Homo sapiens: one gene and its partners. The protein of the gene in region 4 interacts with the protein of the main gene of each other region in a pairwise test. Each region holds a gene or a part of one and is shown on either strand. Other genes may lie near its edges.

Region 1 (7,256 bases), on a different chromosome or scaffold from region 4:
CTGAGTAGAGGGAGGAGAAGCCAAGGGCAACCCAAGGCCATCTCACCACTACTCCGAGGAATGGTCCATGGAGACAACAGATTCAAGAGCACATATAATGCAAGTTCCTTGATTCATGCTGTCTATTGGCTGGGAACTTTGAGCTCTTCCTTGGAGGAGGGAGGGTGATCAGGTCAAGGAGGTAGGAACTTAGAGAACGCATTTGGTATGCTGCTGGTATGTAGAGAGAGAGTCATTCTATCCCTCTGGCTATCCCTTCCAGGCCAGCTTTTGCCATGCTTCCCTTCTTTCCCTCTACCCTGTTTCATGAGTAATCTGAAAGGCTTCGTATACTGGGTAGAGGGTGGGGAGGGAACTGCAGTCTGGGTGGGTTGTCACCTCTCTTACTATCCCAGAGCCCTGGTTATAGTTTCTAGAATTAATGAGCAACGTCATTGAGACCCGGGGCTCAAAGGAGCCAAGCAGTGATGACAGTGAGAAAGCATCAGTTCAGAAGGGACACGTCTTTCCTCTCTGAGCCTCCTTTGTTCCCACCTGGTCCTGATCCTCCCATAAAGGAGGGTCACACTGATAGGTCATCTGACCTTGCCTTGCTGCTGGCCTTACTAAGACGTCGCTTGTCACTATGATAGCCATGGGGAAGGCGGTGACCTGGTGAGACTCCATTGGGCACCTCAGGCTTCTGGCCATAACGAACCTGGATGAAACCTTCCCCAGGAGTCTGCTCCTGACCTCGTACTTGCTCGGTGACCAGGTTGTCTGTGTTTTGTTGGGAGGCCATATTATTGCTGAAGGGATTGAAGAATTTTCCCCCAGGGCCATTCTCCAGGCACTGATTAAAGTCGGGGGGTGGTGTGCAGCTCTGGACTATGCCCACAGAGGGGCCAGAAAGCTGGCACTTAGCCATGTGCTGCCGCGGTTTGACAAATCGCTGTCTGATCTTCTTCCAGCCCAGGTGGTAGAGTTCAGCCAGGCTAAGGAGGAGGGACAGTGCAGCCACAGCCAGCATAAAGACAATGAAGACATTCTTCTCTGTGGGCCGGGATACGTAACAGTTGACCGGGTGGGGACAGGGACTCCTGCGGCAGACATGCAGGGTGGTCAGGAAGATTCCGTAGATGAAGTACTGGCCCACAATGAAGCCCACCTCCATGGTGGTGCGGATCAGGATGCTGCACACATAGGTGTTGAGCAGAGTGCCCTGGAGGGCAATCCTTCCATTCCCTTCCTCCCAGCAGGACAGTTCTGCCTTCTCTGCCACCGGGTACTCGTAAGAGCCAGAGCCCCGGACCTCTTTGGCCCTCTCGGCCTCCCGTAGCTTGCGCTTCTCCTGCATGCGCACAGTGTGCATGGCGTGGCCCATGTACACCAGAGAGGGCGTGGAGACGAAGATGATCTGCAGCACCCAGTAGCGAATGTGGGAGATGGGGAAAGCCTGGTCGTAGCAGACATTCTGGCAGCCAGGCTGAATCGTATCACACCGGAAATCAGCCTGCTCATCCCCCCAGGAAGACTCAGCAGCTGTGCCCAGCACGAGCATACGGAATATGAAGAGGACAGTGAGCCAGACCTTGCCTACCACGGTCGAGTGCTTGTGTACTTCCTCCAGGAAATTTCCCAGGAAGCTCCAATCGCCCATCTTGGCACAGCCAGGGAACAGATGCCAAAACTTCTGCAAATGGGAGAGAGAGAAAGAGAGAAAAGAAGAAGGATGTTCTGTGAAGGTCTGGAATGTCTATCATGTTCTGGGATTCCACTGATCCATCCATCCAATGGGTTCTTTAAGAAAATGCAACTTAGAAGTCAAAGCAACCAACGAAAAGCTCGCTCTCCTTTCCCAGCAAAAATAAAAAGAAAGAGAAGATTCAAAGTAGCCATATTAGCAAAATTAGAGCATGGCTCCCACACTTTAACGGATCTAGAAATCGTGGTGTGTGTTACAATATGGATTCTGCTCTTGCCCCAGTAATTCTACTTCAGGAGGTCTGGGATGGCCCCCAGGAATCTGGATTTACAACAAGCAGCCCAAGTAATTCTGATGCAGGCGGTGAGGGACCGCACCTGGAGAAACACGAGTATTAAAAAGAACACAAGACTGGGGTCTGCAAATGTGACTCTGGGCATTTACCTCACTGAGTCTGTTTCTTCATTTATCGAATGGGGATGGGAATAGCTACACCAGAGAATTCTGAGGATTAAATGATATGAGGTGTGTGATATTCTGAAAATCATTCCACAACTGTTCCAAATGTTTAAATGGCTGTTGGATGGAAAAGGAATTTTTTTATGGCTCCAGAGGGCAGAACTAGGTGGAGGAGGAAAGAGTGAGGATGGGATTGGCAAATTTGGCCCCTCAGGAAGCACTCTGCAAAAATCAGAACCATCCAGCATGGACCAGCTGTGTTGGGAGGTGGCAAACAAAAAGTGTGCTTTGGTCACACCAGCTAACAGTATCACAGATGAGTGCTCACTTCCCCTGGCTGGTAAGGCAATGTTGATCTCCCATGCCTCGGTGCAACACAGCCATTCCAGCCACACAGCTCAGCTCGCCCTGCTGCTAAGTTTCTGTGTCTCATTTAAATAAGGTTCCCACACACAGATCTGCCCACCCTTATGTCCAGAATAAATGTCCCAAAACTTTATGTCCCTTACAAAATCCTCCCTCATCTGGCCTTTGTCTGCTTTTCCAGCCTGTTCCTGCCTGTCCACATGAGTTCCTTTTGTCCAGCCATGCCAAGTCTTCCCAAATGCCCTCCTTCTGTACCCCTACATGTCCCCTCACCCCTAGCTGAATCCCATTTACCTTTCAAAACTTAACCCAGTCATTGCCTCCTCCAGCCCTCCCTCCTCCCTCAAGCTGAGCCTCTTCAGCTCCTGTGATGGCCCCCGGGACACTTACTCGTCTCCCAGTGCTTGCTGCCTTGTGTTGTAATCCTCTGCCTGTCTGTGTTCTCCCAGGAGGGACTGTTTGAAAATGGAGACTGTCTTTTCTTCTGTATCACCAGAGCCTGGCCCAGAGTAGGTGTTTAATATATCTTAGTTGAGTGAATGAAGGAGGGGCTGACAGGCACTGTTGTTTCCTACCCAATAGAAAACCAATTCCCTGTTTCTTGCCTGCCTCCCATTGGCAGGGTGAAAAAGCCAGGTATCACTTTCTTAATCTCCTCTGCAGTTAGTTCTGGTAGGTGAGGTATGGGGAGAATCTAAAGTAGAGGGAATGCTCCAGAAAAGGTTTTTCTACCCCCCAGTAAATGGAGAGAGCCTCACTCACAGTGCTCCCATCCCCCTGTGAACAAGAGGGAACCTCACTCACAGTGCTCCCATCCCCTGGTGAACAGGAGGGAGACTACTCACAGTGCTCCCATCCCCCGGTGAATAGGAGTGAGCCTCACTTAGCCCCACCGCTTCCTGCCTGTGGACAGAGTTGTATGAACCAAGATGTCTAAAGCTGTCCAGAGAATCTCAGAAATGTCAACCAGTGCCCTGAGGCCTCTGAAGCAACTCTTGAGGCTCCCTACCTCCAGAATTCTTACTTAGTGAATAACGAATGTTCTTACAGTTTAAGCCTCTAACCATTCCTAACCAACAGGATGACAAACGTCTCGGAGGGAATGGAGCATAAATATTCCTTTCTTAGAATCATAAACCTCAGATTTGGGTGGGTCCTTAGAGGTTTGTCAAATTCAAACTTTGACCGTCATATCTTTGCTGCCAACGTGCTCCTGGTTTCTGTCTGAACATTCTTCATGCTTATGGGGAAAGATGGGGTCAGGGTGGTGCATTTCATAGTCCAGGCTTCCTCAGCTCTTGAGTTGATTGTTGCCTTGACAGGGACCAACCTCCTGGCCCTGTATTCTCTCAGACCCCAGGTCCCCAAACTTGAGAGTATACAGTGTCCCTGGGAATGAGGGAGTTCCTGAGTGAGCGGAAAGCATCTTATCTCTGCTCCTCTCTATATCAAAGACCCATGCAGGTCTTGAGGCCTTTCCTGTCATTTGTGATCAGACATCTGCCCCATTTCCTTAGGTGGCGAAGCGCCCCCTCTTTCAGCCTCCAAATGTGGAAAATTGTGGAGCATGTGCTCAAAAGGAAAATGGCTGATTAGATAAGAGTTTGAATTGTCTGTCCTCTCTTCTGGGCACATGTACAGTGTTCAGCACCTTCAGGGTCAGCCACACACGTGCAGTGACTGAACTATGGTAAATGTCTGAGAAAAAGAGGGAGGGAGAGAAGGGGAGGAATAAAAAGAAGAGAAGAAAAGGGAAGGACAAGGGAGAGTTGGAAATGGAGAAAAAGACCATGTAGGGTTAAGAAAAGACAGATGCAGGAGTTAGCTTACTGAGGTTTGACAAATTTCTATTACCATCTGCTGGGCTTAGATAAATGATTCAATCTGTGTTCCACTTTCCTCACCTGCAAAATGGACATACTATTAACTCATAGAGTGCTATGAGATGATGCGTGCAAAGCACTTAACACAGTGTTCAGCAAATAAGAACTGAATAAAAGGTAGCCATTACTAGCAACAAGAGCAGTGGGGAAGGATGAGAGTAGAAGAAGGAGGGAAAAAGAGAAAGCAGAAAGTAGAGAAAGGTGCATTACAAAGGAGAAAAGAAATGGGAGCAAGAGTAGAAGGGGAGGAAATGAGAGGAAAATGGAAATAGAAAAAAAAAGAAACAAATGTCATATTCTTCCAGGATTTGGGGCAAGTTTTCCACACTCAGTCCCTGAAGACTTCTCCCTTGATCTTCTCACTCTGTCACTCATTCCTTGCAAGTCCCCAAGGAAGTATAAAAATAGTTCCAGGCAAAGAATGTGACCCTTTGGTCTAGTCTGCCAAGAGGCTTGACTGCTGACTCCTTCACTGCTGTCCAAGGAATTCCACCTGGAAGAGGTAAAGCACAGATACAAGAAAGGAACACCTTGGAAAACCAGAAAGGCAGTATTAGGAAGGATATCTTATTGGGAGGGAAAAAGAGAAACTATCTGAGGAGGTATAGGGGTGAGGCAGACCTCCTGGGCCCAGGCAGAGGAAATAGGGTGAAGGGTTTTTCATGTATGACTTCCTGCTGACGCTCAGGCAAGGTCAGAGAAACTTAAAATAGCTACCATGTACCAGATGCTCAGTTTATAATGTGAAAGGTCTCTGGCTGTAGTTACTTTTCCAGCTACGTTGGCTCCCTTTGGATACCCCATCTCAGCCAAAGAAATTTGTAGATTAGATACTCAGTGAGTTTACTGGGCGTATAGCATATAAAATACTTTGTAGATTATTATCTGCTTCTTGGCAGGAAGTGTATTAGGAGGGGCAAAGGAAGCTGCCCATGCCATGAATAAATGCTATCAAACACAATGGCAATTTACCTCACTGCTTTAGCAGTTATCCTCACTGGCTTCCTACCACTTAGAAAGTCCAAACTGCTTAACTTGCCATGTGAAACCCTGTACAGTCTTATGCTATCATTTTTCCACTTTTCCACTCACACACTCAATACTTAAGCTACACAATTTCACATGTACTTATGTGCATCTCACCATTTCTCACCCATTTATCTTGGCTTCTTATGTTCCCTCTGCCTAGAATGTCCTTTTTAAAATTCATTTAATACGTTTATTGAGTGGCTACAGGGTGCCAGCCATCATTCTGGACAATGAGGATACAGCAGGAAGGAGGGGAAACAAACAAGGGATTCCCTGACTTCACTGAGTGTAACTGCCTTTATACCCCTTTATTAACAGCAGACATTAAATACATGATTTCAGTAAAACACAATGTGTGTTAACATAAAGGAAGTATAAGGTGTCATGGGAATGTGGGGCAGGAGCCTGAATCTGGTTTTTGGGTTTTGGGGAGAGTCCTAGGGAATTGCGTTCTAAAGCCCTCTGCCACTGATACAAGTTCTGAAATCAGCAAGGCAAAAAGAGATGGTCCCTAGAACCTGGAAGAGAACCATCCCAACTCTAAAGGTTCTTCACTCCCAAACCTTCAACATCCTCTTTCAACTTGTCCTATCCTGAGATAAAGCAAATTTTGGAGGGGCCACTAGGAAACTTGTTTGGCAATAGCAACATGGTGCTTAGATAAGAGGAAGAGGGCCAGAGGAAGGATTTTGTGTATAGTGAGCATGAATCATTTTATGATTTTATTTCATGTACTGTATGGCCAATGACCAGAAATAAAGCTCAGGCACCTACATTCTGAATCCAGTGCTTCTTTTTTTCTTTTTTGAGATGAAGTCTCGCTTTGTCACCCAGGCTGGAGTGCAGTGGCACCATCTCAGCTCACTGCAACCTCTGCCTCCCAGTTTCAAGCAATTCTCCCTGCCTTAGCCTCTGGAGTAGCTGGGATTACAGGTGTGTGCCACCACACCTGGTTAGTTTTTGTATTTTTAGTAGAGAAGGGGTTTCACCATGTTGGCCAGGCTGGTCTCAAATTCCTGACCTCAGTTGATCCTCCCGCCTTGGCCTCCCAAAGTGCTGGGATTACAGGCATGACCCACCATGCCCGGCCCAGTGCTCCTTCTCGTGGTCCCCCTACACGGCCAGTGTTTTTCAAAGAAAATCATTTCAGAGCAACCCAGATTAATCATAAACTCATAGCCAGAACCTCTTCCTCTGACTCCGCAAATCTACAGCAAAATGGATAAGTCTTCTAAAATTGACCTCAGCCCTCTTTGGTGTCCCCTGAACTCCAGAAGACTGAGCATCTGGTACATGGTAGCAATTTTAATTACCATCCAGCATGGAGGATACATCCTCACACTTGGTTATATATTTCCTTAGACTTGTTTTCCAAACATTTGTCTATCAGCCAACCTGCAGATACTTTGCTGAGTCCCCTTTATGTGCCTACCACTGTTCTGAGTAATGAGAACAGTACCAAAGAGGTGCAAGGCCTGACACACACTGGGCACTCAATGGTGTCTATTAAATTAATAAAATCGGCCGGGTGTGGTAGCTCATGCCTGTAATTCCAGCACTTTGGAAGGCCGAGGCGGGCAGATCATCTGAGGTCAGGAGTTTAAGACCAGCCTGGCCAACATGGTGAAACCCCATCTCTAATAAAATTCAAAAATTAGCCCAGTGTGGTGGTGGGCACCTGTAATCCCAGCTACTCAGGAGGCTGAGGCAGGAGAGTTGCTTGAATCCGGGCGGTGGAGGTTGCAATGAGCTGAGATCACGTCAGTGCACTCCAGCCTAGGCAACAGAGTGAGACTCCGTCTCAAAAAAAAAAAAAAAAAAAATTAATAAAGTCA
Region 2 (7,375 bases), on a different chromosome or scaffold from region 4:
GGCGGATCACGAGGTCATGAGATTGAGACCATCTGGCTAACATGGTGAAACCCCATCTCTACTAAAAATACAAAAAATTAGCCTGGCGTGGTGGCGGGCGCCTGTAGTCCCAGCTACTTGGGAGGCTGAGGCAGGAGAATGGCTTGAACCCAGGAGGTGGAGCTTGCAGTGAGCCGAGATCGTGCCACTGCACACCAGCCTGGGCCACAGAGCAAGACTCCGTCTCAAAAAAAAAAAAAAGAAAAAAAAATGAGAAAGGTTACAGAATGAATTTTCATACCAGTAGCTGATTATCTGGGGTTTTCTGCTTAGAAGAGCAAGAAGAGAAATATTTAGGTGGGCACGATCTACCAGTCAGAAAAACCTTTTCCTAGGTAATGGGGTTCTGAATACACAAAGTATCTTTCAAATGTCTCATCTCTATTTTTAAACCATTTGATGTTTTAGCAAGCCACATGTAGTAGAGTACCGAGAAAAGAGTGGCTGCTTGGAGAATGGCGTGAACCCAGGAGGCGGAGCTTTCAGTGAGCCAAGATCGCGCCACTGCACTCCAACCTGGGTAGTGACAGAGCGAGACTCCGTCTCAAAAAAAAAAAAAAAAGGAAAAGAGTAGCTGCTTGATAAACACTGACAAATTGATAATTCCCTAAGGAAAACTAAGACCTCAAAGAGAAAGAAGAACATGGAGGCAATAGAGAACCTCTATCTGAAAATACGCATTTGGTTATGTTTACTTATTTATTGTCTCATTCCCCACTAGAATGTAGTAAACTCCATGAGCAGGGGCTATATCTGGATTATTTCAGCCAGGAATGTATAACAGTAGAACACAGTAGTATCTCCACAGATAATTTTTTTTTTTTTTTTGAGATGGAGTTTCGCTCTTATTGCCCAGGCTGGAGTGCAATGGCGCGATCTCGGCTCACTACAACCTCTGCCTCCCAAGTTCAAGCGATTCTCCTGCCTCAGCCTCCCAGGTAGCTGGGATTACAGGCATGCACCACCACGCCTGGCTAATTTTTGGTAGAGACAGGGTTTCTCCATGTTGGTCAGGCTGGTCTCCAACTCCTGACCTCAGGTGATCCACCCTTCTCGCCTCCCGAAGTGCTGGGATTACAGGCATGAGGCACCGCACCCATCCTCCACAATTTTTTAAATGAATGGCATAAGAGTTAAGGGCCCTCATGAGCTTTCAGGATAGACTCGAATTCAAGTCCTGACTTGTTATTTATTATAACTCTTTTTTTTTTTTTTTGAGACAGAGTCTCAGCTGTCGCCCAGGCTGGAGTGGAGTGGAGCGATCTCGGCTCACTGCAAGCTCCGCCTCCTGGGTTCACGCCATTCTCCTGCCTCAGCCCCCCAAGTAGCTGAGACTACAAGTGCCCGCCACCATGCCCAGCTAATTTTTTTTGTATTTTTAGTAGAGATGGGGTTTCACCGTGTTAGCCAGGATGGTCTCAATCTCCTGACCTCGTGATCCGGCCTGCCTCGGCCTCCCAAAGTGCTAGGATTACAGGCGAGAGCCACTGCGCCCGGCTATTTATTGTAACTCTTCAAGTTATTAAGCCTCTTCATAATAGTATTTACCTACCTCAGAAGTTTCTGAGGTTTTAAGGAGATAATGGATGTAAACTGCTTATTACTCAGCAGATCGTAATCTGACTATACTTACTGAGCATATGCTATATGCCATACACTGTCCTAATGATGAATGTGAATTAACTCATTTAATCCTCACCATAACTCTAGGAGGTAGGTGCTGTTATTTCCATTTTTATACTCAAAGTGAATGAGACAGAGCAGTTAAGTAACTTACCCAAGGTCATAGAGTAGAAATAGCTTTCAAACCCAGTCTCGCTTGAGTCCTGCGTTTTTTGTTTTTTTGTTTTTTTTTTTTTTGAGACATTGTTTTGCTCTTGTTGTCCAAGCTGAAGTACAGTGGCACGATCTCAGCTCACTGCAACCTTCGCCTCCCGGGTTCAAGTGATTCTCATGCCTCAGCCTCCGGAGTAGCTGGGGTTACAGGTGCCTGCCACCACACCCGGCTAATTTTTGTATTTTTAGTAGAGACGGGGTTTCACCATGTTGGCCAGGCTGGTCTCAAACTCCTGACCTCAGGTGATCCACCCACCTCAGCCTCCCAAAGTGCTGGGATTACAGGTGTGAGTCACAACGCCTGGCAAGTCCTACCCTTAAGCTACATGCCATCCTTCCACTCATTGGGACCTCAAAATGTTAGCTGTTATAATTTTACAGTGACTATTACTAGGGGTAGTGAGAAGCCATGACTACGATGTTTACATTCTCGTACATGACAGCTGCAACGAGATGTATTAAGAGAGACCTGAGATGAGACTTACCCAGTGAGGCGGTTTCGGATAATTTTGACGCTCATTACGGTCTCCCCCATGGTGGCAAAGGCTCTGGAGATGAAGTTCTCATCCATGTAGGGTTCCAGCTGCGTAAAAACAAGAGCACAGCGGCTCAGGCCGGCGGCCGGGCTTCCCACTCCGGGTTCCAGAGCCCCTCCCGTTCAGCCCAGGGCTGGCTACGCGCCGCTGGGGGAGCGAGGGGCGAGGTTCGCCTCCACTGAGCGGCCTGAAACCCCAGCTCTTTTGGTTCAAGCTTGCCCCGCTTTAGGGAGCCTCCCCTTGGACCTAGAAACCCCACTCCTCCGGTCCCAGAACAGCGCGCCTCAGTCCTTGGATTGCTCCCATTCTATGTCCCCAAAGCACCACCTTTCCCTCCCACGAACCCAGGTGGGGCCCCAGGACCCCTAGCCTCACGGACTCAGCCTCTTCACTTAGATGCTGGAACCCGCTTCTGTGTCACCAAAAAGAACCCCCGTCACACGTCTCCCCTTTCTGGGATCCCAAGTCCCCTCCCACTCAGATCCTTCCTCTCTCGCGAAACCGAGATGCTTCCTTGTCTTCAGACCCCGGACGGCTGCCCTCACTCACGTCGCCCATCCACAGGCTGGCCGCCATACCCGCGCACCGGGGTGGGGCTTTGCGGGCGGGGCTCTGCGGGCGGGGCTCGAAGGCCCGCGCGGGCGCCAATCCTGGCTGCGGAGACCGCTACAGAGCATGCGCCTCCGACGGCTTCTGCGCAGGCTCCCGAGCGCAGCGGCCCGGGTCGGGCAGTGTGTTCAGCTCCGGGTTTTTCCTGCAACCCACTGGGCGCTAGGCTTCCGGATCGCGGTGGGCGGAGTTCAGGCTGGAATGGGGCGGGCCAGATACCACCTGGCCCAGGCGGCTGGGTTACTTGGGTTTATTTCTGACTTTATATATTTAGAAAACAAACAAAACTACACACACACACTCGTCTGACTTTATATAGAAAACAAAACCACACACACACAGACACATATAATTACAACATTAATATATGCTCGTTAGGGCTGGGCACGGTGGCTCACGCCTGTAATCCCAGCACTTGAGGAGGCCGAGGCGGGCGGATCACGAGGTGAAGAAATCGAGACCATCCTCGCCAACAGGGGGAAACCCCCTCTCTACTAAAAGTACGAAAATTAGCGGGCGTGGTGGCGAGCGCTGGTAGTCGCAGCTACTCGGGAGACTGAGGCAGGAGAATCGCTTAAACCCAGGGGGCAGAAGTTGCAGTGAGCCGAGATAGCGCCATTGCACCGCAGCCTGGTGACAGAGCAAGACTCCATATATATACATACACACACACACACACATACACATATATATACACATATATACACATATACACACATAATACACATATACACATATATACACACATACACATATATATACATATATACACACACACACACACATATATATGTATGCTCGTTACTTGGGTTAATTTCTGACTTTACATATTTAGAAAACAAACAAGGCCGGGCGCGGTGGCTCACGCCTGTAATCCCAACACTTTGGGAGGCCGAGGTGGGCAGATCACGAGGTCAGGAGATCGAGACCATCCTGGCCAACATGGTGAAACCCCGTCTCTACTAAAAATACAGAAATTAGCCGGGTATGATGGTGTGCACTTGTAGTCCCAGCTACTCAGGTGGCTGAGACAGGATAATCACTTGAACCCGGGAGGCAGAGGCTGCAGTGAGCCGAGATCGCGCCACTGCACTCCAGCCTGGGCGACAGAGTGAGACTCTGTCTCAAATTAAAAAAAAAACAAAAAACAAAAAACATACACACGTACACACACACACAAACACACACATAATTACAACATTAATATATGCTCGTTGTAAAAAACTGCAGATACAAGTGCATCCAAAAAAGTGAAAATATCCCTCCGGACAACCCGGTTCCACTACCTCCCTATTGTTACCAGGGGTTCTTAGGCTCTCAATCCAACAGAAATTAACATGAGGCCAAAAAAGTTTTCCCAGACAAGTCTTCATTGGAGCTTATGCCTGGGTATAAGGGAGGCAGCACAAGAGAGCGAGAATTCCCTGACTCTCCGAAAAGAGCTGGTTGAGATGTTTTATTGGGCAAAGCACGGAAAGTGATATCAAGTGTAGGGTTTACAGGCTGGGCAGGACAAAGCTCATGAGGGTGGGGTATGAAGGTCAGCATATCCTGTTGTAATGATTATCTTTTTTTTTTTTTTTGAGACGGAGTCTTCCTTTGTCGCCCAGGCTGGAGTGCAATGGCACAATCTCGGCTCAGAATAGCTAGAATCTAGCCTCCTGGGTTCTAGCTATTCTCCTGCTTCACCTCCTGAGTAGCTGGGATTACAGGCGCCCACCACCAGGCACAGCTAATTTTTGTATTTTCAGTAGAGACGGGGTTTCACCATGTTGGTCAGGCTGGTCTCGAACTCCTGACCTGAGGTGATCCACCCACCTCGGCCTCCCAAAGTGCTGGGATTACAGGCGTGAGCCACCCATCGCGCCCAGCCAATGATTATCTTTAGTACTGGGCTACCTGGTAGTTTGGCTGTCAGCAACAAGGCTGTAAATGAAGTTTTCAGCATTTCTTCCTGAGATGAGACATTCCACAACCTTGGTTGGATAATTTGGATCTCCTAAGGCCAGATCCTAGAATTATTTTTATTTTATTTATTTATTTATTTATTCAGTTGGTCAGTCATTCTGAGAGAGGGTCTCTCTCTGTCGCCCAGGCTGGAGCGCATTGGCACAATCTTGGCTTATTGCAGCCTCAAACTCCCGGACTCAAGTGATCCTCCTGCCTCAGCCTCCAGAGTAGCTGGCACTACAGGTGTGCACCCCCACAGCTGGCTAATTTTTTTTTTTTTGCAGAGAGGAGAGCTCACTATGTTGGCCAAGCTCATTTTGGACTCCTAGGCTCAAGCGATCCTCCTGCCTTGGCCTCCCAAAGTGCTGGGATTATAGGTGTGAGCCACAGCGCCCAGCCTCTTTTTTCTTTTCTTTCTTTTTTTTTTTTTTTTTTTTTTTTTGTTTGAGACGGATTACAGCCACCTGCCACCATGCCTGGCTAGTTTTTTTTTTTTTTTTTTTTTTTTTTTATTTTTAGAAGAGGCAGGGTTTCACTATGTTGGCCAGGCTGGTCTAGAACTCCTGACCTCATGATCCCCCCACTGTGGCCTCCCAAAGTGCTGGGATTACAGGCGTGAGCCACCACGCCTGGCTTCTTTTTTCTGCTTTCTTTTTTTTTTGTAGATCCTGGAATTCTTTAATTAAAGGGCATGGTTACACATTATAAGAGCACAAAAGAACAATATATAATGGCTATTTTTCTTTATATGACTAAAGCCTCAGAGTTAGTGGGTATGGTGGTGTGGGTTTTTGTTTTTTCTTTTGAGACAGAGTCTCGCTCTCGCCCTGGCTGGAGTGCAGTGGTGTGATCTCAGCTCACTGCAAGCTCCGCCTCCCAGGTTCATGCCAGTCTCCTGCCTCAGCCTCCCAAGTAGCTGGGACTACAGGCGCCCACTACCATGCCTGGCTAGTTTTTTTGTATTTTTAGTAGAGACGGGGTTTCACCGTATTAGCCAGGATGATCTCAATCTCCTGACCTCGTGATCCACCCACCTCAGCCTCCCAAAGTGCTGGCATTACAGGCGTGAGCCACCACGCCCACCAATTTTTTTGTATTTTTAATAGAGACGGGGTTTTGCCATGTTGGCCAGGCTGGTCTCAAACTCCTGTCCTCAGGTGATCCATCTGCCTCAGCCTTTCCAAGTGTTGAGATTACAGGCGTCAGCCACCATGCCTGGCATCCTTATGAGAATCTAATACCTGATGATCTGTCACTGTCTCCCAACAACCCCAGAGGGGACTGTCTAGTTGCAGGAAAACAAGCTCAGGGCTCCCACTGATTCTACATTATGGTGAGTTATATAATCATTTCATTATATATTACAACGTTACATTAATAATAATAAAGTGCACAATAAATGTAATGCGCTTGAGTAATCCCCAAACCATCCCCTGTCCGTGGAAATTGTCTTCCACAAAACCAGTCCCTGGTGCCAAAAAAGGTTGGGAACTGCTGCTCTAGTCTTGGTGAGCTGAAGCCAAGCCCTGTTCTTACTGTCTCACTGTGACCCAGGGCAAGCCACTGCTCTGTGCAAGCCATTCCCTCACTCCAGGTTTACCAGTCTGAAAAACATGAGTCTTGTTGGAGCCGGAATGGGATTCTTCCTTCATTCCCATATAGGGCCCTGGGGTGGGAGGTGGGAAGAATTAAAAGGAGTGTAAATTGGAGTAACCTTGTCATCTGGCAACCAATCAGTCCCCAAGTTCTGTCACTCTATTTTTATTTATTTATTTATTTATTTTTGAGATGAAGTTTTGCTCCTGTTGCCCAGGCTGGTGTGCAGTGGTGCTATCCTGGTCACTGCAACCTTTGCCTCCTGGGTTCAAGCGATCCTCCTGCCTCAGCCTCCCAAGTAGCTAGGATTACAGGCTGGCGCCACCACGCCCAGCTAATTTTTGTATTTTTAGTAGAGATGGGGTTTCACCATGTTGGCCAGGCTGGTCTTGAACTCTTGACCTCAGGTGAACCACCTGTTTGGGCCTCCCAAAGTGCTAGGATTACAGGTGTGAGCCACAGCTCCCGGCCTCTATTTTCTTGAGTCCCACTACCCTACTCCAAATCACCTGGAGTTCTGACTAGTCCCAGAACAGTGACCTGCCCACAGTGTGCCGTCATAAACACAATTTAGATGGCTAGACAATCCAGACAGTTTAATTTTGAGATGCTCCTACTCTGGGAGTATCCCAGGCCTCTGACTTACTTTGGTGCCCAGTCGTCAGTATGGAAAGCTTCTTCTGTATGTAGTAATTGGCATCTCTGACAGTGAAACCCACTCCAAGTGTTTTAAGGCCACTTTCTGGGGCTCCCTCTGGACTAATGGGCACCCAAAGTCCTTTCCTACCAGTCTATACATCCTCAACTTA
Region 3 (7,024 bases), on a different chromosome or scaffold from region 4:
CATGCCCTCTTCCACCCTCCTTCCTTCCCAGCTGGCCTCACCCCGGATTTTGTGTCAGCCTTCTGCACCGTGTATCCCAGAAGTGCTGTATTCCCCGTATCTTGGGGCGGTGTCCATTCCAGTGTAGCGCTGAAGCCCCAAACGTCCACCAGCTTAATACTCTGAGGAGGGCCTGGCCTCTCTGAAAGGGCAAAGCCATGGCAGTGGGCGTGGAACATCCCACATGCATTGAAGTCACTTCAGGAGTGCCCTAGCCCCTTTTTCTCCTCAGTTACCCCTCCTGCGCCCACCCTGTGTCCCAGACATGACGTGGGAGCCTTGCCGCAGCTTCCCCAGCTCTCTGAGCTGGCTCCTCTTCAGCCTGGAGAGGGAGTTCCTGAGGACCCCCCCATCTCCCACTTCCCCCACCGTACCAATCACCAGGATGTCAATGGTGGCGGTGGCCTCCAGCCCACCCAGCTGCACGCGGAGTTGGTAGCGACCTGAGTCAGCACGTTGGGCTTCTCGGATGAAGAGGATGGAGTCTTGCTCCCCATTCCGCACACTCACACGCCTGGTGTCCAAGGCACAGCCATCATGTGTCCAGATGGCTTGAGGTTTGGGCTTGCCCTGAGGAATGAGGGTAATGCTTTGAGCAGCCCCGAGAGGCTTCCTGACTCTCCCTGCTGCTGTAGGGGTCCTGTCCACCCCAGGTCCACAGGGAGGCTTGACTTGGAGCTGCACATTCCTTGAGTTAGAAGTTGGTGGACCCTCCCGGGGGCCTCCTCCTTTCAGCAACAGCCTAAGGATCTTGGGAAAGAGGGATGGCTTTGAGTCTCCCAATCTCTGAGAGCTTAGGTCATGAACACCCGGGGCAGCTGGGACCAATTGAATAGCCACTCAAACTCCCAAGAACCCTTCTAACTGCAAGCTCTGAGGCTTCTGTAGACTGAAGGGCATGGATTAGCCTCACACCATCTCATGGGTGCACACCCAGTCCTATCCAAACCCACCTTCAGGAGTGCAGAGGTCATTTGGCCTCAGACTTCTGGTGGTGTGACCCCTTCTATCCAAGGCTGGGAAGATTGCCCCTCTGCTAGCAGGACTCTTGGTATCTGTTTCCAAATCCAAAACCTGCACTGGCCCCAGACATGGACCCAGTATGGGGCTGGCATGATCACCTGGAATGGGATTAGTAGGTTCACTGTGTCCCCAACCTTCCGGATGTAGGTCTGCCTCAGGGCCCGAGGTAGCCAGATCTTGGGGTGCTCTGAGTGATGGAAAGAGAGAGAATAGGAGATGGATACTCAGAGAAAGTAAATCCTGCATCCAGCTGCCTGCTGTGGGTGAGTGGCCCAGGAATCGGTCACCAAATTAAGCCCTTCTTAGAGGGGAGGGGAAGAGTGCTCCCATCATCCTGCTGGGATTTGGGGATGAGGGGTTGGCTTAAGGAACACCCCGGGAAACATTAAAGTCTCAGCAGAAGGAACACTGGAGTGCGAGTCTGACAGTTCTCTTAATTTGTAACTCTCAAGTACTGACTTTCCATCATCTGGAGGCATTCCATCCTGATGGAGGCATTTTTATTTTTCTGTTTGTGTACAGACCAGCCTGGTCTGTGTGGTTTGTCTTTCCACCCTTTTCTACATTTGTCCTTAATACCATTCCTTTTATCAAGGCCACTTTCCATGTCAATCCTGACCTCCCAGTTAGGTGTGGGTCTCAGGAGAATGCTCTCCATTCTGCAGGCAGAGTCAACACCCTGACCTCCCAGCCGCCCACGGAGACAACACTGATGTCACTGCAGACAGAGCACGTGTCTGGGTCCCTTCCTCTGCATGGCCACTCTGCTCCCGGGCGCCTGCACAGTCTTCTTCCAGTTTGCAGAGGATCATTTTGTACAGATTCTGGGACAGATTAGGTCCACCACTCATTTCCCTTTGATCTCACAGGTCTGTCCCAGTGAGAAGTAGAGATTAGATGATGTGTATGGGCTTCCAGGATGAAGACAGGAAATGCTTGGAAAAGTGCTGAGTGTAGGTTTGGAGATTGACCAGGTATCATTTCTCTCCTCTTGGGATGCCTCACACTGTCTCAGCTGCCGAAGCACAAACATTCCACCTGCGTTCCCTCGGGGGCCTGGCTGAGACAGACACCATTTTCTGGCCTTTTCCTGGCTGCTGTCTCCTCCTTTCTCAGGCACAGGCAGTCGCCTGGCTGATATTATCTTCAGTAGAATGTGATAGTGCTTCAGTTCCCAACAACCCAGGATTCTTGCCACAGTTCATTCTTGGCAGTTGGAAGAACTTCACCCCTGGTACATTCCTGTGGCAAACAGCATGACTGCTCGATAGTGGATTCCAGACTCTTTGATAGCACACACTTCTGTGAAAATACTTCCCTGAGCATTCACTATGACATATGTATGTTTACTTATAGATGAACTGTTTAAATACATACATTACATAACACAAACATGTAAGTGACGCAACTGAAACAGAGCTTCTTCTGTGTCCTTCCTCCAGCTCAATCAGCAAGCATTGTCCAGAGAACTTCACTCTGAGTCTCCCCATGATAATCTCAAGGTCGCGAGACCTTTGCAAATGAAGATCAATGGCAATGTACAGTGCACACGGTCCGTTTGGTTTCTGCAGTTTCCTTCTGTGCTGTGTGGCTTATGTTTTCACCTGGGCTGTGCCTGTCTTAGACTGCACCTCAGGAATATGTGACGAGGGGACTTGATGGGCCTGAGTGCCCGTCCTCCCTGCCCTGCTCAGGTCTTGACTGCCTCAGCATAGATGCAGCAGCTGCAGGCGGCTGAGTGACCCTGCTGTGGCTGCCCTCGGCTGGGCTCTGGTGGCTTGGGAGGGGCGGGACATGAAGAACAGAAGAAGCGTTTGTGTGATGGGCTTCTCTCCTGTGGCCATCTTGGCAAGCAACCAAAGAGTTGAAGACGGGCGGATATGACTTAATAGTGTTTTGAAAAAGAGGGCCGTACTTGGAAAGGAGGGTCAAAACCTCATCTTGTCAGGCTTGGTTCCCCACTGTTGGGGGAGGAAATAACCCTTTCTACATTTGCTGGGGAGAGGGCTGGAGAGAAGCTGGCTCTGCTGTCCCTGTGCCGCCTGCCTACAGAATGTCGGCATTAGGAAGGGCCTGTAAGCACCAGAACAAGGATGCTGGGAGCAAGAGGGCTCCGAGAAAGAAGCCGGTATTCTGGAGACCTCCCGGCTAGCTGTGACGACGTGCCTGGCACCAGAGACTCCTGCCTCCCCATCTAAGATTGTGTGTCTGAAGGACCCATTCTCAGAGCACTAGCTGTGTCTTGCCCACCAGTGTCCACCCAGCAATGAGCACCATAGTCAGGGCTTGGACAGTGGCCTGCCCCTGGAGGGAGGAGGCCCAGAGGGAAGGCGGGGGCTAGACATACCCAAGAACTGCAAAGGGTTGAGGTGGGGAGAGGAACCCAGGCCTTCATGCCTGACAGAAGTGCCCGCTGAGCCCCGCCCTGCTGAGACCTCAGGTAGGGAATGGGCTGTTATGGGTAGCTGTGAGCTGATGTATGTGTTTCCACCTAGTGTTTCTTTTGTTTCTTAGAAAAACACCTGGGAAAATGTTAGCATTCTTACACCTGAACTAAAGAGAAAAATGAAAGAAATGGGTTTATGTGGAACATAAGCTAAGGTGTGGGAGTTAGAGGAAGAGGAGCAGACTGGCCCTTGGATCTAGAGGGGATCCTGGCTGGGCAGAGAGCAAGGAAGGAGGCTGCCCGCGAGAGCAAGGAAGGAGGCTGCCCGCGAGGACGGCAGTCTCTCCCTCCCTGGACGGCTCCATTGCCGGTTCTCTGCTTATCAGTGGGTTTCCTGACAAGATGACGAAACTTAAGTCTCTAGAATGGACTCTGAGGATGTGTAGGTGAGGCCTCTGCTCCCAGCAGGCTCCCGGCTCCCTGTGGGAGGGCAGAGTATGGACGTGAGGCTAACTCAGCTGACTACGTGCAGAGGTGGCAGGAGAGAGTGTGGCAGCTTCAGATGCCCAGTCAGCAGGTCAGCAGCATGCTCTCCAATCGCCTCTCAACCCAACCCAGGCGCAATCTGACTCTTTGCTAAGAATGTGAACGCCGGGGCTCATTTGAGGCATCTCTTTTCACACATCCGCAGTCAAGCGAGGTGTAAATTGTACTGACCTTGGGGAGGCATGGCTTCCCCTGATGCCCAAGGTCTTTCTCCTCCTTAGATGACAGGAGGGATGTGAACCAAAGCCTAGAGTCTTTAAGAGCCTAGGTTTTCTAAGAGCAGGTCTGTGAGAGTCACAGTTTGGTTTTCTCCCTTCATGGGGTCTTAGAGAAAAGGCATCTTGAAAAGTCCTTTGAGGGCCTTTGGTTCTGAGTTAGGCTCTCTCTGTACAATGTTTCTCTCAGACAGGATGCTGTTTAATTCTTTCTAAAAAATTCTTAGAGAAAACTACTTCAGGCCGGGCGCAGTGGCTCATGCCTGTAATCCCAGCACTTTGGGAGGCTAAGGAGGGTGGATCACCTGAGGTCAGAAGTTCAAGACCAGCCTGGTCAACATGGTGAAACCCCATCTCTACTAAACATACAAAAATTAGCCAGGTGTGGTGGCGGGCACCTGTAATCCCAGCTACTTGGGAGGCTGAGGCAGGAAAATCGCTTGAACCTGGGAGGCAGAGGTTGCAGTGAGCCGAGATTGCACCATTGCGCTCCAGCCTGGGCAATAAGAACAAAACTTCATCTCAAAAAGAAAAAAAAAAAAAGAGAGAAAACTACTTCAAGTCCAAAGATCTTGACTTCTGATTAGAAAATTCCTCCTAATACCTACCCTACTTTTATCCTGCTAAAGTTTATGCCTGTTTTACTATTCTATAATTGTTCCTATCCTCTCATAATTCCCTTTTATGGGATCAGTCTTTCTCCAGAGGCTCCCTAGGGGCTGTATAGTTCAGACCGATGTTACTAACTATGACCTGGAGAGCCAAGAACCAAGATGGAAGCATTGGAGAAGTGGAGAGGGTGTGTGTGTGTTTGTATGAGTGTGTATGTATGTGTGTGTGAGTGTATGTGTGTGAATGTGTGTGTTTGTGTACGTGCATGAATGTGTGTATGGGTGTGTTTACGTGTGTCTGTGAATGGTGTGTGTATGTGTGTGTATGAGAGTGTGTGTGTGAGAGAGAGAGGGAGCCTGCATACACACGTGCCTATGTGGGTGAAGGGTTACCAAAAGAGGGCGAATGCAGGAGGCTAGCTATGGCTTTGAAACTATCCAGAGGTTTCCAGAAATCCAAGAAGTACCGGGATTTCTTAGAGAAACATTACCAGATGCCTAGGATGTGGCCTTGGTCTACTCAGAAACCTGTCTGGAGGAGTGCAATGGGAAAGGAGTGGTACAAGAGTGTCACTTTCTTGAAGGCCATGAAACTAAGGTCAGAAAAAATAAAAGGACATAGGAACAGGCAACACTTCTCTGAGGAAAAGACTCCACCCCACCCCGTCCCTATGTTACAGTCGTCCCCCTAGTGCTTGATGGTTTTAGCCCTGGCTCACTGTCTCTCCAACACCCTCTCCATGCGGTATGCCTCTCCAGGCATAACTCCTGCTGGTCCCAACACCCATGTTTCCAGTCCCCGTAGGGTCTCTCACATCTGGCCCACCACTCCTCCAATAACTTTGTCCTCTCCTAATTCAGCCAATGGTCCCTGTGGCCATTCTCTAGACCAAGAGCTACAATCCTTCTATGATCAGAATTACAAGCATCCCACTGTCTCATCACCACCTCTATAACAGAGATGGCTAACTGGCCAAAAAAAATGTATGTTACCCCTTCCGTAGCGTAGCTATCTCTGAGAAGTGGCTGCCCGGCCACCTTTTGCTGGATGGCTACGCGACCAGTTTTTGCCAATGAGACGTAAGTGGCAATGGTGAGAATCACATCTGGTCCCAGGCTTTGAAGAAGTTAGATTTCTATTTTCCTCTTCTGCTAGCTGTACACAGATGATCACGGGCCCTAAGGAATGGCAGAGCCCCAAGATGAAAGAGGCCTGGGTCCTTGGATTACCACATGGAGGAGAACTATCTGCAGAATAGTTTTTAGTTCTTACGCTAGTGAGAAATAGATGTATGTCATTCCTGAGACCTGTTTCATTCACTAGTATACCTAACTAATATAATCTTTATCCCTTTAGCTCACTTCCTCCAGTGCTCCAACACCAGCAATTCTTTGGCACCACTGAGATCTGTGATCCATTGTCCTACCACCCTCTCACTACCTAGCACCCCTTTCATGTTAGCACTTTCTTCACCACCCAACTTAGATTGCACGGTCATTATTATACTCTCTCTCTTGCACTCACTCAAATCCCTGAGTCCTCTTTGACTTCATTGCACTCTCTTGGCAATACCTAACCCTTGTTAAATAAACTTCCCACCCACTCAGTGGCTGTATCTGCACAGAGTAACAGGACTGGGGGAAAATACAAAATTATATGGAGTTTAACTTGAGGGCCATTAATAGTGACCACCACCTCCAAGTGAACTCTGGCAATTCTACTAGACTTCCCAAGTTCACTCGGTCTCCCATTGTCCTGGGTGACTATCGCACACCTTTCTCTTCTAAAACCTCCCTACCTTCTCCCTCATTCTCATTCCCAGTTGTCGATCTTGCTAGTGTCTAAGGCCCACCTACAGTCTATTCTTAACATGGCCAGCTGGAAAAATCCTTAAAATCTACACTTGGTCCTGTCAGTCCTTACTCCCAGTCCCTGCACTGGCTGGCTGGCTGTCTCGTAGACAAACCAAAGTCTTCACAGCGGCCGTGCTACCTCTCAGACTGAAATACTGCCACTGTCTCCCTCCCTGTGCTACAGCCACAATGGCCCCAACCCATAAAGCACACTCCTGCCTCAGGGTCCTTGCAGTTGTTCTCTCTGTGTGGAAAATATTCCCCCAAATATCTGCATGCATTGCTTTCTCACATCCTTTAAGTTGCTGCTCAAATGTCACCTTATTAGTGAGACCCTCACTGAATATTCC
Region 4 (7,011 bases):
CTGCATTTCCCCAACTGATGACTAGTAACTACAGCTGCCTCTTCTGAATTCTTTCTTATGTCTTTTTTCTTTCAGATTAACAACTCTTTCTGAACCATGGGCTCAGGACACACCAAATGAGAGCTAGCCCTCTCTTATGCCCACCTCCTCACAAGCATCCCAAGATAGGTAAGCCAGTCACCTTTATGTCCAGCAGCCAATGACTATGCAGTGCAAATTCTAAGCATAGTATGTTTTTGAACTAGAATAGATGGCGGCTCACACTGATTTTGGGAACCTGGAGTCCAATTCAGAGTTCATCCTACAGCAAATTTCATTTGTACAGTGCTTTAGGGTTTATAAAAAGCTTTCCCATAATGACCTCATTTTGATTTTACAGTCTCACAACTCTCTGAAGTGGAACGACCATCTGCCATTATTCCCATTTCATATAAGTAGGACTTTTGGAGGTTAAGCGACTAGCCCAAGGTGAATCCCTGAGCCCAAATGCAAATCCCCAAGTGCAAGGCTCTTTCCATTGTCCTGCCCACCTATGAAGTGGAGAAAATGTTTACTGACATTGTTCAGGGTTCCCACTTGAAAAACATGTTTGTTATTGAGAGTCCACTACAAGCCGACATTGTGCTAGGGGCTTTATGTTCTCATAACTCTCAGGATAAAGTCCACACTTTACGCGATCCTGTACCGTCCAGCCCACTCTATCTTTCCTGCCAGACAGGCTTCTTCCCATGTCTATCACTGGTCAAGTCCTTTCCTGTCTGAAAACCTTTGCACAAGCAATTCCCTTTGCCTGGAATACATTTTCTTGGCTCTTTTATATTCAGGTCTCAGTTAAATGTCACTTCTTCAGGGAAGCCTTTACTGACATTCCCAACCTTCCCAAGCTGGTCTACATCATCCCACCCTCTCATCACACCCTTTAATTCCTCTCTCGTAGTAACCAAAATTTATGCCCTTGTCGGAGCATAAATGTATATTTGCTCTCTCTCTCCAGCTAGCCCATAAAATCTCGAGGCTAGAGTCTATCTATACCCCTGTTACCTAGAACAGTGGCTGGCATATAGTAAGCACTCAATAAATGATCTGTTGAGTCCATGAGTAAATGAGAACATGGTGGGTTAAGAGTTCAGGATGGGTCAGGTAGACCTGGCTTATCAACAGCTGGGTGGGTGACCATGGCCAAGGCTTTTAAGCTCTCTTGTCTTGGGTTATGCATTTGTAAAATAGAGAAAATACTTTTTACTGTTTTGAGATGATTAACTAAAAAATTCACAGAAAGCACTCATATAAATGCTTGGCACAAAGAAAGCCCACAACAAGGTCAACTCATTCAACAAATACTTAGGCTAGGCATATAACAGAAAAAAAGCTATGGATGACACTTTTTTCTTTTTAACTGCTAGGATAAAATCTAAACTCCTTCAGTCTCTATACCATCTTCTATCTCTTGCCACTCTCTCCCTTAACCAAAATACTCCGGCCAAATCACCTTTTTTCCAGCTCTTAAGTTCTGCCAACCTCTTTTCTTCCTCAGGGTCTTTGTGAATGCCATTCTCTTTCTCCTGGGCTTCACTGGGTTAGCTCCGTCACATTCTGCTAGCCATAACTTTTTTTTTTTTTTTTTTTTGAGATGGAGTCTCGCTCTGTCGCCCAGGCTGGAGTGCAGTGGCGCGAACTCGGCTCACTGCAAGCTCCGCCTCCCGGCTTCACGCCATTCTCGTGCCTCAGCCTCCCGAGGAGCTGGGACTACAGGCGCCTGCCACCACGCCCGGCTAATTTTTTGTATTTTTTAGTAGAGATGGGGTTTCACCGTGTTAACCAGGATGGTCTCGATCTCCTGACCTCGTGATCCGCCCGCCTCAGCCTCCCAGAGTGCTGGGATTACAGGCGTCAGCCACCGCGCCCGGCCATGGCCATAACTTTTAAGTCACCTCCTCAAAAAGGGCTCTTCTGTCCACCCTCGTTTCCTTCTCAGCAGTTACAAAAATTTGCCTTTGTTGGCTTGTTTAGCAACTGACACTATCCAACTAGCCTAGGAGCTCCACGAGGGCAAGAACTGTACACTTCTGTATCCACTCCTGTATCCCTAGCGTCTAGCACAGTGCCTAACACAGTAGAAACTCAACTACGAGCTAAATGAATAAGCGATAGCTCGTGATTATGTAGCATTGCGTCTCACTACTCTCTGAACCAAACTGTCTTTAAATATTATGAGAAACACAGGCACCCCCGAGTTCCTCACATACTGCTCTGCCCAGGAGGAGAGCATTTTAGGTGACGGTAAGGGCAGAACTTACCAGGCAGGGAACGTCTCCCTAGAGGGCAGTTCCCCTGTTGAGAAAGAAGACATTATCGACGTCACCCAAGATGAAAAAAAAACCCAGCTTTTTCTTTTAAGTACACGCTCAAAGCTGTCCCAGTGGTGGTGACAGGTGAATCTCGTAACTCCGAAGGTAAATGCAACACACCGTGCTGGCAGACCCAATCAACACGCTGGGCCTGCCAAACTATCTCAACTTCCCAACGGGACTCATTAATACCCACTGATTTTAACAGAGCAAGACGAGACGGGCGCCGAATCCCGCCGGAGGACTCCGCCGCGCCTCCTCCCTAACTCTGAGTCAAGTATCTGGACGGGCGCGGCTCCCCAGCTCCCGCGCGGAGGGTGGGGTACAGCAGGAAACGTTCCCCGCAGGCTGCCTGGAGAAGGCAGGGGGCCGCTGGGCTCCGCAAAACGGTCCCGAGGGCAACCACGGCCCCGGGCCGCCCAGCCCGCGCGGCCTCCGCGTCCCAGTGCCCTTGGTGCCCGGCCCGGCCGGCGCGCCGCGCCCCTGCCTTCCAGGCCGCCTCTCTGCCCGCCAACAGACTCCTCACCCGTCGGGGCCCCGGCTCGGCCAGACCGTACCTTCTGGAAGGCGGAGAGCGAGCGGCTGAACGCCCGAGACACACAGCGGGATCGGGACAGCATCACGGCGGAGGAGCCGAGGGCGGGCGGACACCGGATATAGGGCCGGACAACAACCGGAAGTGGGGCGGGCCGCAGTACCCGCCGCCCGACGAGGGGTGTTCGGAGCGAACCACTGGCAGGGGGTGGGCGCACGGCGGCGCCCAGTATCCCGGCTGCAGCGCAGGAGTCCCGCTCTCTGGAGCAGGCAACCCTAAGGCGCTCTTGGGGCCCTCCGCACTGCCTGTCAGCCTGAGGTGGTTCTCCTGAAGGTGTATACGACTGTCCCGCCACCACATTGCCCCCGGGGTCAGGCCTTCCCCTACCCTTCCACAGAACTGGCTCTGAGCTTGGCGCCCTTCTCTCTTGGGACCCGAGGGCACCGCGCCGTTCCGCCTCTGTACCTTGGGAAGAGAGCAAAAGAGGGGCACGGACATTGAACTGAAACCTTGGCAGACATGCATGCCTGATCTTACACTTGTGTGGCCTGGGGCAGATGACATTGCCCCCCACCCCCAGTCTCAGGTCCCTTAACTATTAAAAAAAAAAAAAAAGGCACTTGTTACTTCCCTGTCTTCCTAACCCCGAGTCAAAGAAACAGAATCCCAGGAATTTCTAAATCCCATTGCCTTTTTACGAGTCGGATATCTTCACCAACTATAGCCTTATTTCTCAACAGCTTCTGATCTCCCCCCAACGCAAATTCCAGCCAAACTAATTGTTCCCCATACATCTTGTGCATTTTGGAAGTTGTTCGTTTGTCACCCTATCCCTAGAATATAAACTCCCAGCTGTTTTTTTAAGAAACAAGGTCATAGTTCACTGGAGCCTCGACACTCTGGGCTCAAGCGATCCCTCTGCCTCAGCCTCTGGAGTAGCTGGGACTACAGGTGCCACCATGCCAGGCTGACCTCCCCACTTTGAGTGTGCCATTCTTCCCGCTGACTTGAAGTGAAAGCATATAGCATCCCCTTCCCCTCCTTAAGTATTCAGGCCCCTTGAGTATTCACCTTTAAGGCTCACCTTCCTAATGAAAAAGATGTGCTTTAAACCTCTGGCTGAATTAGTAACACATAAATGTATGAATGAATGAATGAACCACTTGGTGCCGTTCATGATGATTTCTTTATCTGAGGCATTTTGCCTGGCCCTCAGGACCTTTATTTTTTATTTTTCTAATTAATTTATGTTTTAATATAAATTGAGACGGGGTCTCACTATGTTGCCCAGGCTGGCCTCAAATTCCATCAGGACCTTTACAGTGCCTTCACTCACCTGAACCCTGAAAGCACTGCCACTGAAATTCTGGAAGGATGGGCCAAAGTCCTAACTAGAAATAGAGAAAACAGCTCTGCCCTGCTGCTACCCACAATTAACTCCTCAGTAGCTTTCACCTGAATTATTTGAAAAGCTCCCTAAGCAGTTCTAAGCCTCCGCTCTCGCTTTCTCTAGCCCATCATCCTTTATATCTGTGTCAAAGATCCTTCTGAGCCTGGTGTGGTAGCTCACGCCTGTAATCCCATCACTTTGGGAGGATGAGGTGGGTGGATCACTTGAGATCAGGAGTTCAAGACCAGCCTGGCCAACATGGTGAAACCCCATCTCTACTAAAAATACAGAAATTAGCTGGGTGTGGTAGTGAATGCCTGTAATCCCAGCTACTCGGGAGGCTGAGGCAAGAGAATTGCTTGAACCCAGGAGATGGAGGTTGCAGTGAGCCAAGATTGCACCACTGCACTCCAGCCTGAGCAACAGAGTGAGACTTCGTCTCAAAAAAAAAAAAAAAAAGAAAGTAAAGAAAAAAAAGAAATCCTTCTGAAATGCAAACCTAATCCTGTCACTCCTCTGATTAAAGTCTTTCATTGCTTCTCCTGGTCGGATAAAGCAAGGGAGATAAAGTTTATCTCCCTTGTAGGATAAAGTACAAACTCCTCAACTTGGCCAGGCACCTGATAATCAGGCCTCTGATTATGTTCTGATTCTCTCCCCACATTCTCACAGATTGTGAGCTTTAGTCAAACCACACTACTGGCCATAGCCTTGCTGAGCTATTTGCATGGGCTGTTTCCTCCTCCTATTTGCCTAGGAACTCCTAGTCATCCTTTAAATCTCCTTCTTAATCCCTTCCTAACCCCTCTGGCAGAGTTAACAGATACATTTTCTATGCTTCCAAAGCACTGTGTCTGGGTTTCTACATTGCATTTTATTGTAATGTCCTGTTTACCTGTCTGTCTCCCATGCTGCATAGAGCAGCAGGTGGAAAGAGACCACTCTCTATTTTCCTGAATTTTCCAAACACAACACCTGGGACATCAGAGTTCCTGGGACTCTGTAGGTACTCAATAAATATTTGTGGAATGACTAAATACTTCCATGTTTACAACATTGGTGGACACAGCTGAAGAATCCAAGAACGGTAGTCAGGGGCTATGGCAATTTCTTGCCAGTGTTGCTGTTAATATTTTTCTTAGATAGCTACCCAGTCCTTTCACGGTCTTTTTTTTTTTTTTTTTTTTTTTTTTTTTTTGAGATAGAGTCTTGCTCAGCTGCCCAGGCTGGAGTGCAGTGGCATGATCTCATCTTGGCTCACTGCAACCTCTGCCACTCGGGTTCAAGTGATTCTCCTGCCCCAGCCTCCCGAGTAGCTGGGACTGCAGGTGCGTGCCACCATGCCCAGCTAATTTCTGTATTTTTAGTAGAGACGGGGTGTCAGACAGGGTGTCACTGTATTTTTAGTAGAGACAGGGTGTTGGCCAGGATGGTCTCAAAATCTTGACCTCATGATCCGCCTGCCTTGGCCTCCCAAAGTGCTGGGATTACAGGCTTTCACAGTCTTTAACAATTTTTGAGATTCTTATAGAAGGTGTAGAGGCTTCAGGCTGGGCACGGTGGCTCACGCCTGTAATCCCAGCATTTTAGGAGGCTGAGGCAGGCGGATCACGAGGTCAAGAGATCAAGACCATCCTGGTTAACACGGTGAAACCCCGTCTCTACTAAAAATACAAAAAATTAGCCGGGCCTGGTGGCGGGTGCCTGTAGTCCCAGCTACTAGGGAGGCTGAGGCAGGAGAATGGCGTGAACCCGGGAGGTAGAGCTTGCAGTGAGCTGAGATCATGTCACTGCACTCCAGCCTGGGTGACAGAGCTAGACTCCGTCTCAAAAAAAAAAAGATGTAGAGGCTTCAAGACTTCAAGCCTGGTTATAATGTGGCAAAGCACTTCTGGAGTTTTAGTGATCACCCAAGTTAATCTTAGATATTACAGTCTAAAGACACCACACACACACACACACACACACACACACACACACTCGAGCATGGTTTCATACAAAATCCCATTGAGAGGGTAAAAGTTGAAATTGATTTCCTCGAGATTCACATACGAGCTTCCATGGACTCCAAGCTGCAACCCAATAAGCTAGGGCACTCCTTCATTTAGAGCTTCCCAAGACACAGCACCATCTACTGGGGCAAGAGTTTATGAATATAAATTGTGGCAGGGCTCAAAAGAGAATTTTTTTTTTTTTTTTGAGTGGAATCTCACTCTGTTGCCAGGCTGGAGTGCAGTGGCATGATCTTGGCTCACTGCAACCTCTGCCTCCTGGGTTCAAGCGATTCTCCTGCCTCAGCCTCATGAGTAGCTGGGACTACAGGCGCCCACCACCATGCCCGGCTAATTTCTGTATTTTTAATAGAGACAGGGTTTCACCATGTCGGCCAGGATGGTCTCGATCTCTTGACGTAGTGACCCCTCCACCTTGGCCTCCCAAAGTGTTGGGCTTACAGGCGTGATCCACTGTACCCGGCCCAAAAGATAATTTTTAAAAACATTTTCATTGTAAAATACGTATTAAAAAGGATATAAAAATCTATGTGTCCAGTTTAAAAGAAAAATAATAAAAGGAATTCCCATACTTGCTGCCCAGCTGAAGGAATGGAAAAGTTCCCTGTGGTCTCCTCCATCATCACACCCAGTTAGCCACTACTATACTGAATTATATATTAACCATCCCCTTGTTTTCATTATAGCTTCAATATGCTTATGTTCTATACACATTTTTGCCTGTGT

Evidence for each region.
Region 1: the proteins of DLST (region 4) and GJA5 interact in binary tests that used the Homo sapiens proteins (3 or more experiments, as listed by UniProt).
Region 2: the proteins of DLST (region 4) and TRNAU1AP interact in binary tests that used the Homo sapiens proteins (3 or more experiments, as listed by UniProt).
Region 3: the proteins of DLST (region 4) and MYBPHL interact in binary tests that used the Homo sapiens proteins (3 or more experiments, as listed by UniProt).

What each region holds. Positions count from the first base shown.
Region 1 is NC_000001.11:147,757,600-147,764,855, forward strand, and holds the start of GJA5 (gap junction alpha-5 protein), read right to left. Parts: upstream 3,004-7,256; 5' UTR 2,900-3,003; intron 1,673-2,899; 5' UTR 1,640-1,672; coding exon 563-1,639; 3' UTR 1-562.
Region 2 is NC_000001.11:28,548,723-28,556,097, reverse strand, and holds the start of TRNAU1AP (tRNA selenocysteine 1-associated protein 1), read right to left. Parts: upstream 3,014-7,375; 5' UTR 2,988-3,013; coding exon 2,961-2,987; intron 2,459-2,960; coding exon 2,361-2,458; intron 1-2,360. UniProt on the Homo sapiens protein: Involved in the early steps of selenocysteine biosynthesis and tRNA(Sec) charging to the later steps resulting in the cotranslational incorporation of selenocysteine into selenoproteins. Stabilizes the SECISBP2, EEFSEC and tRNA(Sec) complex.
Region 3 is NC_000001.11:109,297,009-109,304,032, forward strand, and holds part of MYBPHL (myosin-binding protein H-like), read right to left. Parts: intron 1,250-7,024; coding exon 1,161-1,249; intron 610-1,160; coding exon 414-609; intron 182-413; coding exon 42-181; intron 1-41. UniProt on the Homo sapiens protein: Myosin-binding protein which plays a role in cardiac function. Seems to regulate conduction in the atria and ventricular conduction systems.
Region 4 is NC_000014.9:74,877,911-74,884,921, reverse strand, and holds the start of DLST (dihydrolipoyllysine-residue succinyltransferase component of 2-oxoglutarate dehydrogenase complex, mitochondrial isoform 1 precursor), read right to left. Parts: upstream 3,007-7,011; 5' UTR 2,969-3,006; coding exon 2,906-2,968; intron 2,332-2,905; coding exon 2,298-2,331; intron 1-2,297. UniProt on the Homo sapiens protein: Dihydrolipoamide succinyltransferase (E2) component of the 2-oxoglutarate dehydrogenase complex. The 2-oxoglutarate dehydrogenase complex catalyzes the overall conversion of 2-oxoglutarate to succinyl-CoA and CO(2).